Linked DNA regions of Homo sapiens: region 2 is linked to region 1. The links come from fine-mapping of genetic effects on gene expression. A gene starts in region 1. The other region holds a variant in brackets. All regions are shown on one strand. Distances are from middle to middle. Region 1 holds the start of BMS1 (BMS1 ribosome biogenesis factor). Region 2 has its middle 31 kb from the start of LINC02623.

Region 1 (4,388 bases):
GAATAAGTATAGACACAGAAGAAAAGAAAACTGAAGCCCGAAACCTATGGCCTCACTCTAATTTAAACAGGTGAGAGCAGGGGAACCAGCAAAAGCAGCTGAGAAAGAGCATCCAGGGCTGCAGGTGGAGTCCTGTGAGACAAGTGAATCAAAGTGAATAGGAGAGGGGCCAGAGTATGTATTGACTGTTCTTTTGTGAAGTTTTGCTGCAAAGGGGAACATAGAAAAGGTGCAGGTCCTGGTATAGGAAATAGGGTCGAGTAATTTCTTTGTTTTGAAGATGAGAGAAATAGCTGCATGTTATGTGACGATGAGAAGAGTCCAGTAGAAAGGAAAATATTGCTGATGTTGCAGAGAGGATAGGCTGGCTGGAGTGACACCCTGGAGCAGTAAGAGATGATGGGATCCAGCAGTCCAGTGCAGGATTCTTTGGGTGGACCTAGCAGTTGTTCATCCACAGTCACAGGGAGGCAATAAGAGGCGGATGGGTGGAGGTGGACGTGGGAGTCTGTGGAAGACTTTTACCACTTCTATTCTCTTAGCAAAGCAGGAGGCAAGGAAGGGAGAGGCAGTGGGAAGGATTGAACAGAGAGGAGGAAGTGCGAAATACTCACTTGGAACAATGGGAGATTGAATAGACCAGGCAAAGAATGATTAAAGTGAGGACGGCTGGCATGGTCCTGTTTTCCTCCAGCCATGTTTAGTTGCATCGTCGTGGCATGGAATAGATGGAGAGCTGGGTTTATCCAGGGCTCCCATCTTACCAAGCAGATAGGAGATGACAGGGAGGTGCATGAGTTGAGGAGGTGTGCAAGGGATCAATGAGAATGGTTGGCCATTGAGTTTAAGCTGGCTCACTAGAGAGGGTCATAAAGGAAGAAACAGTGAACAAGTAGTAAGATCTTGATTGGAGGTGCTGGTAAGGTTGCAGGAGTTTTGTTTCAGGGCAGTATAGGGAGTGACCTGGACAGATAGGAGGATAGATAGACCTGGTCAGAGTGGGATACTGTGGGGGTTGCAGTCCTTGGACCTGACAAGGTCTAAGGTCTGATCATGGAGGGAGGGGGAAGCTGAGGTAGGGCAGAGGACAGGAGTGGGCTTCATGAGACCAAAAGGATGTTGGAAGGATTATCTACCTGGATACTGAAATCTTCAAGAAGTAAGAGGTGTAGTGTGAAGAAGTTACAACACTCTAAGCTCTTCAGGGATAAGGGAAGCATGTGCCACGTGGGTAGCCTCCCAAGTCCAGCACCCAGTATCTAGAATATGCAGAGTGAATACCTGGGGGCTGCTGAGGGCAAGAACAAGGTGCCTGTGAGAAGACCTGACGCCTGGGGTTCTCGTGACAGGAGTGGGCCTAGTTTTTGGTGTAGAATTGAGCCTTGAATGCACCAGCGGGATCATATTGAAAAGAAACCCTCCAAGACTAAAGGAAGATGCATCCTCTGACAATGTACGCTCTGTAGGCTCCCAAGTAGCTGGGCTGGGGATTAGATGGACTCCAAGGCATTTCCTCAGGTGGCAATGGGCGGATCCCTGGGAAGGTAAAGCTGTGCAGTAAGAAAACGGCAAGATGCTACGTTCACTCAGGTAAAGCCCCTTTCCCGGGTTTAGGGAGGGCGAGGCAGTTTAGGCTGGGTCAGTTTGTCCCTGCCCTCACGGTTTGTTGGTCCTGGCAAAAGAGGGCCTTATGTTATTTATTTTTCTTAGAGACAGTGTCTTGCTCTGTTGCCCAGGCTGAAGTCCAGTGGCTCATCTCAGTTCACTGCAGACTCCGCCTCCTGGGATCAAGCGATCCTCCCACCTCAGCCTCCAGAGTAGCTGGGACCACAAGCACCACAGGCGCCCGGCACGATGCCGGCTAATTTTTTTTTTTTTTTTTTTTAAGAGAGAGAGGTAGGCTCCCTATGTTGCCCAGGCTTGTCTTGAATTCCTGGGCTCAAGCAATCCTCCCTCCTCGGCTTCCCAAAGTGTAGGGATTACAGGCGTGAGCCACTGCGCCCTGCCAAAAGAGGGCTTTAGGGCACCCCAGAACGCGAGATCCCCCTCATCTGTAATCTTTAAAGAGGAGGAAGTGTACTCCAAATCAAGCGATAGTCCATTCGTCCTTGGCACGGTGACTGCCGGGAGGCCAGGACCAAATGTGTCTCCTTCCGGCTTTTGCACCACACTAACTAACCGGCGCCAGGCCGCAGAGCCGCCCTGGCCTTCGGCGAGAACTCAGGCGAGCGCGGCGCACGCTGCTCCGGAGTCCCACCGCGGAAGTTGAGGCCGCGGATTCCGAGGGCGGGGTGGAGAGGAATCTGGAAGGACCTGGACCCGGTGGAACGCACTGCGCGGACGGCGCCTGCGTCCGCACTCAGCTGTTCAGCCCTCTTTCTTCAGGCTCTCCCCTGAAAGCCGTCCCCATGCCGGTCTCTTTTTTCTGCCTTCTTGTTTCCCTCCGGCGAGTCAGCGCGACTGTGAATTTCCGTTTCCGGCGGTGTCCATGCTGACCTGAGGAGTCGCGGCTGCGAGCAGGTTCGGTGCTGCGGGTTGGGGTAGGCGGCGGTGGGGTCCCTGGTTCTGGGGCACTGGGAAGATCGCGAGTCGTGCGTGTGGGAAGGTCCTCCCCCGGTCCTCCGGGTCATCTTTGCTCCCGAGGAGCGGCATATTTCTCATCTGGCGGAGGTGTCCTGGGGTAGTTGGGTGAGTGACGTGATGAATCCCTGCAGAGAGCCCAGACGGGGAGGGAAGGTGGCTGGGCGACGTCGTTTCCTGGCGACGTGGTCCCGGTAGGAGACTTAGACCTGAGCTGGATCTGTTGACCCCAAATTGTGCTTTTCCCACCAAGAAGAAAGACAGGGAGAGAAACATTAGTACAAGTGCTGAACTAAAATATAGCAGAGAAGAAACATAATCTCTGAAATCACACAGCTATTCGGTTTCAAAGCGTTCCTAGCGCCCAGCTCTCCTAACTCCTGGCCAGTGTTCTTGACATTATGGTAATACATAAAGACTTTGTTTCCGCTGGTGTGTGTCTGTGGGAAGCCTCTGACTCACCTCCGTGCTCCAGTAGCACCCTGTGCAGCCTTCCAATGTCGCCCTTATTGCGTGGCGCGGAAGATAATAGTTTGGATTTCCTCTGCAAGTCAGATAATAGCTGTATCCACTTACTGGCACAGTGCCTAGCACATCGTAGACAGACACAAATATTTATTCAACGGAATGAATACAGTACCTTAATTGAATGAAATGGCATCCTGCTCCGCTTTTTTTTTTTAATCAAGCTGTCAGATTTTATGCAGCCCGATTTCCTAAAATAACTCACTAATTCAGTGATTGCCAATTTATTAGCCACAGATTCCCAGGTAACTCAGAAATCACTGGAAGGGTCTCTGTAAGTTCATGGGGTCTCCAGGTGTCATCTAGAACCAGTCCTATCTCACACGTACAGCTATTTCTATTTTTCAAATGTATGTAGATAAGTTGTAATTTAGGAGTTTTACAGAGTCAACAGGTACTAAAAGTAATACTGCGATCATATTGGAGGTTCATAAAAACGTTTCACATTTTTTTATTAAAATTTAAGTTTTAGTTTAAGTTAGGAAACCACTTCATCAGTCCAGTTGATACCTGGGTCTGAGCTGTCCAGTATGGTAGCCACATGTGACTATTTGGAGTTAGAATGAAATTAATTAAAAACTCATTTTTTCAGTTTCCCTAAGTATATTGTAAGTAACCACATGTGGCTAATGGCTAAATGGCTGAAAAGTACAGATATAGTATATTTCTATCCTTGCAGAAATAGATACTGCTGATGTTGACACTTAAGATGAATAAAAAGTAACTTAACCATAAAATGTAATCTTAAGAGAGGTAACTCATCTAATTTATAGCATAACAGAGAGAAATGAAATTGGGGATGGTTAAGCAGTTTCTACCCTTGTTCAGTGAACAAATACATCATCTCTTCATAAAGAAATAAATGAAATTTACTGTTTTTCCCTGGGTATTGCCTGGATTGTAAAATGCTTCTCCCATCTCCTTACCCCAACCTTCTTCCTTGTAGGTTAGAGTTACTTGTTATTGGTAAATAGCCACTATGGAGGCTAAGGACCAGAAGAAACACAGAAAGAAAAACAGTGGACCCAAAGCTGCAAAGAAAAAGAAGCGGCTTCTGCAGGATCTCCAGCTAGGAGACGAAGAAGATGCCCGGAAGAGAAATCCCAAAGCTTTTGCAGTTCAGTCTGCTGTGCGGATGGCTCGATCCTTTCACAGGTATGTTAGGCTACGGTCTGGTCATTCTTCCATTGATTCTTTTTTTAAATAGTAGGAGCCTCTCACAGGTGACATTTGGATTCACGAGTCTAGTCCAGCTCCAAAGGACATGGAGATTCATGGTGTGT
Region 2 (4,388 bases), 58 kb after region 1:
AGTATTCACAGTTGAAAAAATAGATGTATATCCCCTTGTTTCAAATGTAACTGAACCTAGTCACTTGTTTGAAATTCAAATTAATTAAAATTAAAAATTTCCAGTTCTCGGCACCAGTTACACATTTCAAGGGCTCAATGGCCCCATGTGGCAGTGGTCCCGTAGAGGACGGCACAGCTCTAGACATGGTGTAGGAAGTTGGAGAAGGCTTCCTTAGGGAAGCAAGTGACGGTTGAGCCATGACTAGAAGTTGGTTAACTTGGCAAAGGCTGGGAGTTGGGGAAGCAGAAGAGTGTGTCAAGCACAGGAATGTTATGTGGAAAGGCCTGTGACACAGGGCAGCATGACGCCTGCAAGCCAGCGTAGCTGGAGCCAGGACAGCAGCAGAGAGTCCTAGGAGCTGGAGAGGAAAATAGAGAGGCAGGGGATGAGGCCGCCTTAAGAGGCTATCTTCATCCCGAGACACCAGGAAGCCCTGGGAGAACATTTAGCTGGGACAGCGTGGTTAGATTTCCATTTTTCAAAAAGCCCCTTTGCTACTGGGTGGAGATAGTTTGCAGGAAGTTTAGGGGAAGGAGGCACAGAGAGGGAGAAGTGGTGGGTGCTAGAGCTCTGAGAGGTAACATTGGAGGGGTAGTAGGTCTGGGGGTTGTGAGGAACAAGGGGTTTTCAGGGAGTACCCCAGGGCCCCCAGGTGTCTGGCTGGGATGCCAGGTGGAGTGATGGGCACCTGTGGGACAGCCAGGCAGAGACATCTGAGGCGGCAGCTGGGGAACTGTCTGGAACTCCGGTTGATGTGCTACCTGGGCTTAAGATGTACTCCCAAGAGTTACCAACACCTACACTTGGGAGTGGGTGCATTATCCAGGGAGGAGCCAAGGTTGAACACAGGTGGGTTTTTGTTCAGCATTTTAAAAAATTTTCATTTTTTTTTGTAGAGACAAGGTCTCATTTTGTTGCCCAGGCTGGCCTCAAGAGATCCTCCTGCCTTGGCCTCCCAAAGGGCTGGGATTACAGGCGTGAGCCACTGGTCCCAGTCTGTTCAGCACTTTTTCCACTAGCTTAGTATCTCCACATACCTCAAAGAGATCACCAAGTCCAACTCATACATGCAAACCAGTGCTCAGGAAGTCCACATGATCCTGCTGTGGTTCATTTGACCAAAACTGAGCGGTGGAGCTAAGCAAGGCTGTTTCACAGAAGCCAGATATATAAGTGTCCTCAATATGGAGGGCAGTCACCATCTCCCAGTGTCTCTGACTGCTGCAGGCACACTTGGCAAACTGTGCTCAGGTCAGGGATGGTCTGGGTGGGGGCTCCAGTTTCTGCCACTCACCAGTGATGTGACTCTGGGCAATGTACAAAATCTCTTGGGTTTTAAGTTTCTTAGATGGGGATAATAAACCAATCTTGCAGCATGTGAGGATTTAATGAGACTACAGTTCCCATGAAGGGGATGGGGTGCTGACCTTCCCACACAGTCAAAAATCCACATATAGGCCGGGTGTGGTGGCTCACGCCTGTAATCCCAGCACTTTGGGAGGCTGAGGCGGGCAGATCATGAGTTCGGGAGTTTGAGACCAGCCTGATCAACATGGTGAAACCCCGTCTCTACTAAAAATACAAAAATTAGTCAGGCGTGGTGGTGCGCACCTGTAATCCCAGCTACTCAGGAGGCTGAGGCAGAAGAATTGCTTGTACCCAGGAGATGGAGGTTGCAGTGAGCTGAGATCTCACCACTGCACTCCAGCCTGAGGGACAGAGTAAGACTCCGTCTCAAAAAAAAAAAAAAAATCCATATATAACTTTCAACTCACCACAACTTTTGTTAATAGCCTACTGTTGGCCAGAAGCCTTACCAATAACATAAACACTCAACACATATTTTGTATGTGATTTGTATTGTATACTGTATTCTTACAATGAAGTAAGCTACAGAAAAGAAAAAGTACTAATAAAATCATAAGGAAGAGAATGTATTCACTATCACTAAATGGAAGTGGATCATCATAAAGGTTTTCATCCATATCATCTTCACATTGAGTAGGCTGAAGAAGAGAAGAGGTTGGTCCTGCCATCTCAGGAATGGCAGAGGCAGAAAAGGTGGGGGAGATGGGAAGGAAGGCAGGAGACGCACACATGCTGAGAAATTCATCGTTATTTCTGTCTGACATTTTTGCTTTTTCATTTCTCTAAATATGTTTCTTTGTGATACCAATCCTCCTTCCACCATTTGCTTTAGTTTTGGTGCCCGTACCATAGAAAGGTCCATATGGTAAAAGAAGTCACAAGCAGTCTTGAATAATCGGAACCCCTCTGCCAGATTGTCGAATGTCAACTTATTTTCTGGTACTGCGTCTACATCCACTTCTTCATCATCTGGCACTGATTCGAAAGCACTCATCTCCATCAAGTGGTCTTCTGTTAATTCCTCTGGTGTGATGTCTATTCACTCTTGAATTTCTCCA[A/C]GATCCATATCCTGAAAGCCTACATTCCCCACCTTTTTTGCCACAGGCACACTCTCTTTCATGATTTCCTTGATTGGCCCTATTGTAAATCTGGACACAGTTTTCTCCAGTAGGAAGGCTGGGCACTGAGAGCCTTCGAACCTTCTGCTTCACCTTTTGACATTTAGGGCCCAATTTTAATGCATTTAAATGTTGCCTCCACTCTGAAATGAACATGGGACGTCTGTAATGTGTGAAATAGGTGTGTCTCACCCCCTTCATGAATATTCATAGAGCCTTCTATAACCTGTTGAATATGTACATTTAGCCAACCCTTTCAGCATAACTTCCTGTCTCACCTTTCTGTCCCTGGAAGTGCCTACTTTTGGTCTTTGCTGGAGGCTAGACTTCCCAGCCTGTCAAGACAGCCAGGCTGCAGGCTGCAACCTTTCTAAGAAATAACGCTTTTGGGCTGGCCCAGTGGCTCATGCCTGTAATCCCAGCACTTTGGGAGGCTGAGTTGGGTGGATCACTTGAGACCAGGAGTTCGAGCCCAGCCTGGCCAACATGGTGAAACCCCATCTCTACCTAGAAAAAAATACAAAAATTAGCCAGGTGTAGTGGCATGTGCCTGTCTTCCCAGCTAAACGGGTGGCTGAGGCAGGAGAATTGCTTGAACCTGCGAGGCAGAGGTTGCAGTGAACTGAGATTGCACCACTGCACTCCAGCCTGGATGATAGAGCTAGACTCTGTCAGACAAAAAAAAAAAAAAGAGAGAAAGAAAGAAAGAAAGAAGAAAGAAAGAAAGAGAAAGAAAGAAAGAAAGAAAGAAAGAAAGAAAGAAAGAAAGAAAGAAAGAAAGAAAGAAAGAAAGAAAGAAAATAAGGCTCTTGGCCTGGCACAGTGGCTCATGCCTGTAATCTCAGCACTTTAGAAGGTCGAGGTGGGAGGATTGCTTGAGCTCAAGAGTTCGAGACCAGCTGGGCAAGATAGTGGGACCCCTGTCTCTACAAAAACAAGTTTGAAAATTAGCCAGGCATGGTGGCACACACCTGTAGTTCCAGCTACTTGGGAGGCTGAGGTGGGGGATTGCTTGAGCCTGGGAGGTTGAGGCTGCAGTTAGTCATGATTGTGCCACTGTACTTTAGCCTCTCCAAATTTGTAGATCTCATAATTTTAAGTCACCATCCTCCACCAGTCTTTCGTTTTAAGTTGTTGTATAATGATATCAGTTTTTCTTGAATCATATTAGAATCTATAGATATGCTTTTCTTATAGATATCCTGCACCCACATAAAAGCTGCATTTTCTCTATTTCTCTGTCCTTCCTTCCTTCCTTCTTTCTTCTTCTTCTTTCCCCCCCACCCCCCTACAGAGCCTCGCTTCCAGGCTGGAGTGCAGTTGTGTGATCTTAGGCTTACTTCAGCCTCCACCTCCTGGGCTCAAGTGATTCTCCTGCCTCGGTCTCCCAAAGTGCTGGGATTAAAGGCATGAGCCACTACATTCAGCCAAAAGCTACATTTTCAAGACTAGACAAAAAGGTATTTGGCAAAAAGAGCAAAGTTTCATGTCTGCTAGCATGGCTGCAGTGATGACACTGTGAATTTCCTTTTCTTTTTTTACAATGGTTCTTACACTGGATTAATTTATCTTGAAATGGTGGGCAACCGCAGCTGCAGACCTCAGTCTACAGTACATATCAATCAATCCACCTTTTTCTTGTACTGTCAAGACTTTTCTCTGCTTTTTGGCAGCACTTCCAGAATCACTAGTGGCGCTTCGTACGCGTCTCGATGTCTTCTTCAGATTTATGGTATTGCACTAAACATGAAAAATACATGAGAACCACGAGAGATTACTTTTCACTGTGATACACAATCTACAGGAGAGACAAGTGCTCACACGGAGATGGCTAGTGTCACATGGCATTTTAAGTGGACA

The links. PIP is the estimated chance that this variant, and not a neighbour inherited with it, causes the effect. A credible set is the group of variants that fine-mapping cannot tell apart.
Region 2: its variant is the best candidate, but not a certain one, in a credible set for the expression of BMS1 in whole blood (TOPMed, PIP 0.65).

The regions. Positions count from the first base shown.
Region 1 is chr10:42,780,311-42,784,698 of GRCh38, forward strand. BMS1 (BMS1 ribosome biogenesis factor) reads left to right here and starts at 2,485. Exons shown (of 23, transcript NM_014753.4): 1 at 2,485-2,520; 2 at 4,052-4,260. The coding sequence starts at 4,085. RefSeq lists an enhancer at 2,316-2,665.
Region 2 is chr10:42,838,171-42,842,558 of GRCh38, forward strand. No RefSeq gene overlaps it. Among named protein-coding and RNA genes, the nearest start is that of LINC02623, 31 kb to the right of the region's middle. The variant A/C (reference allele first, on the strand shown) is at 2,469.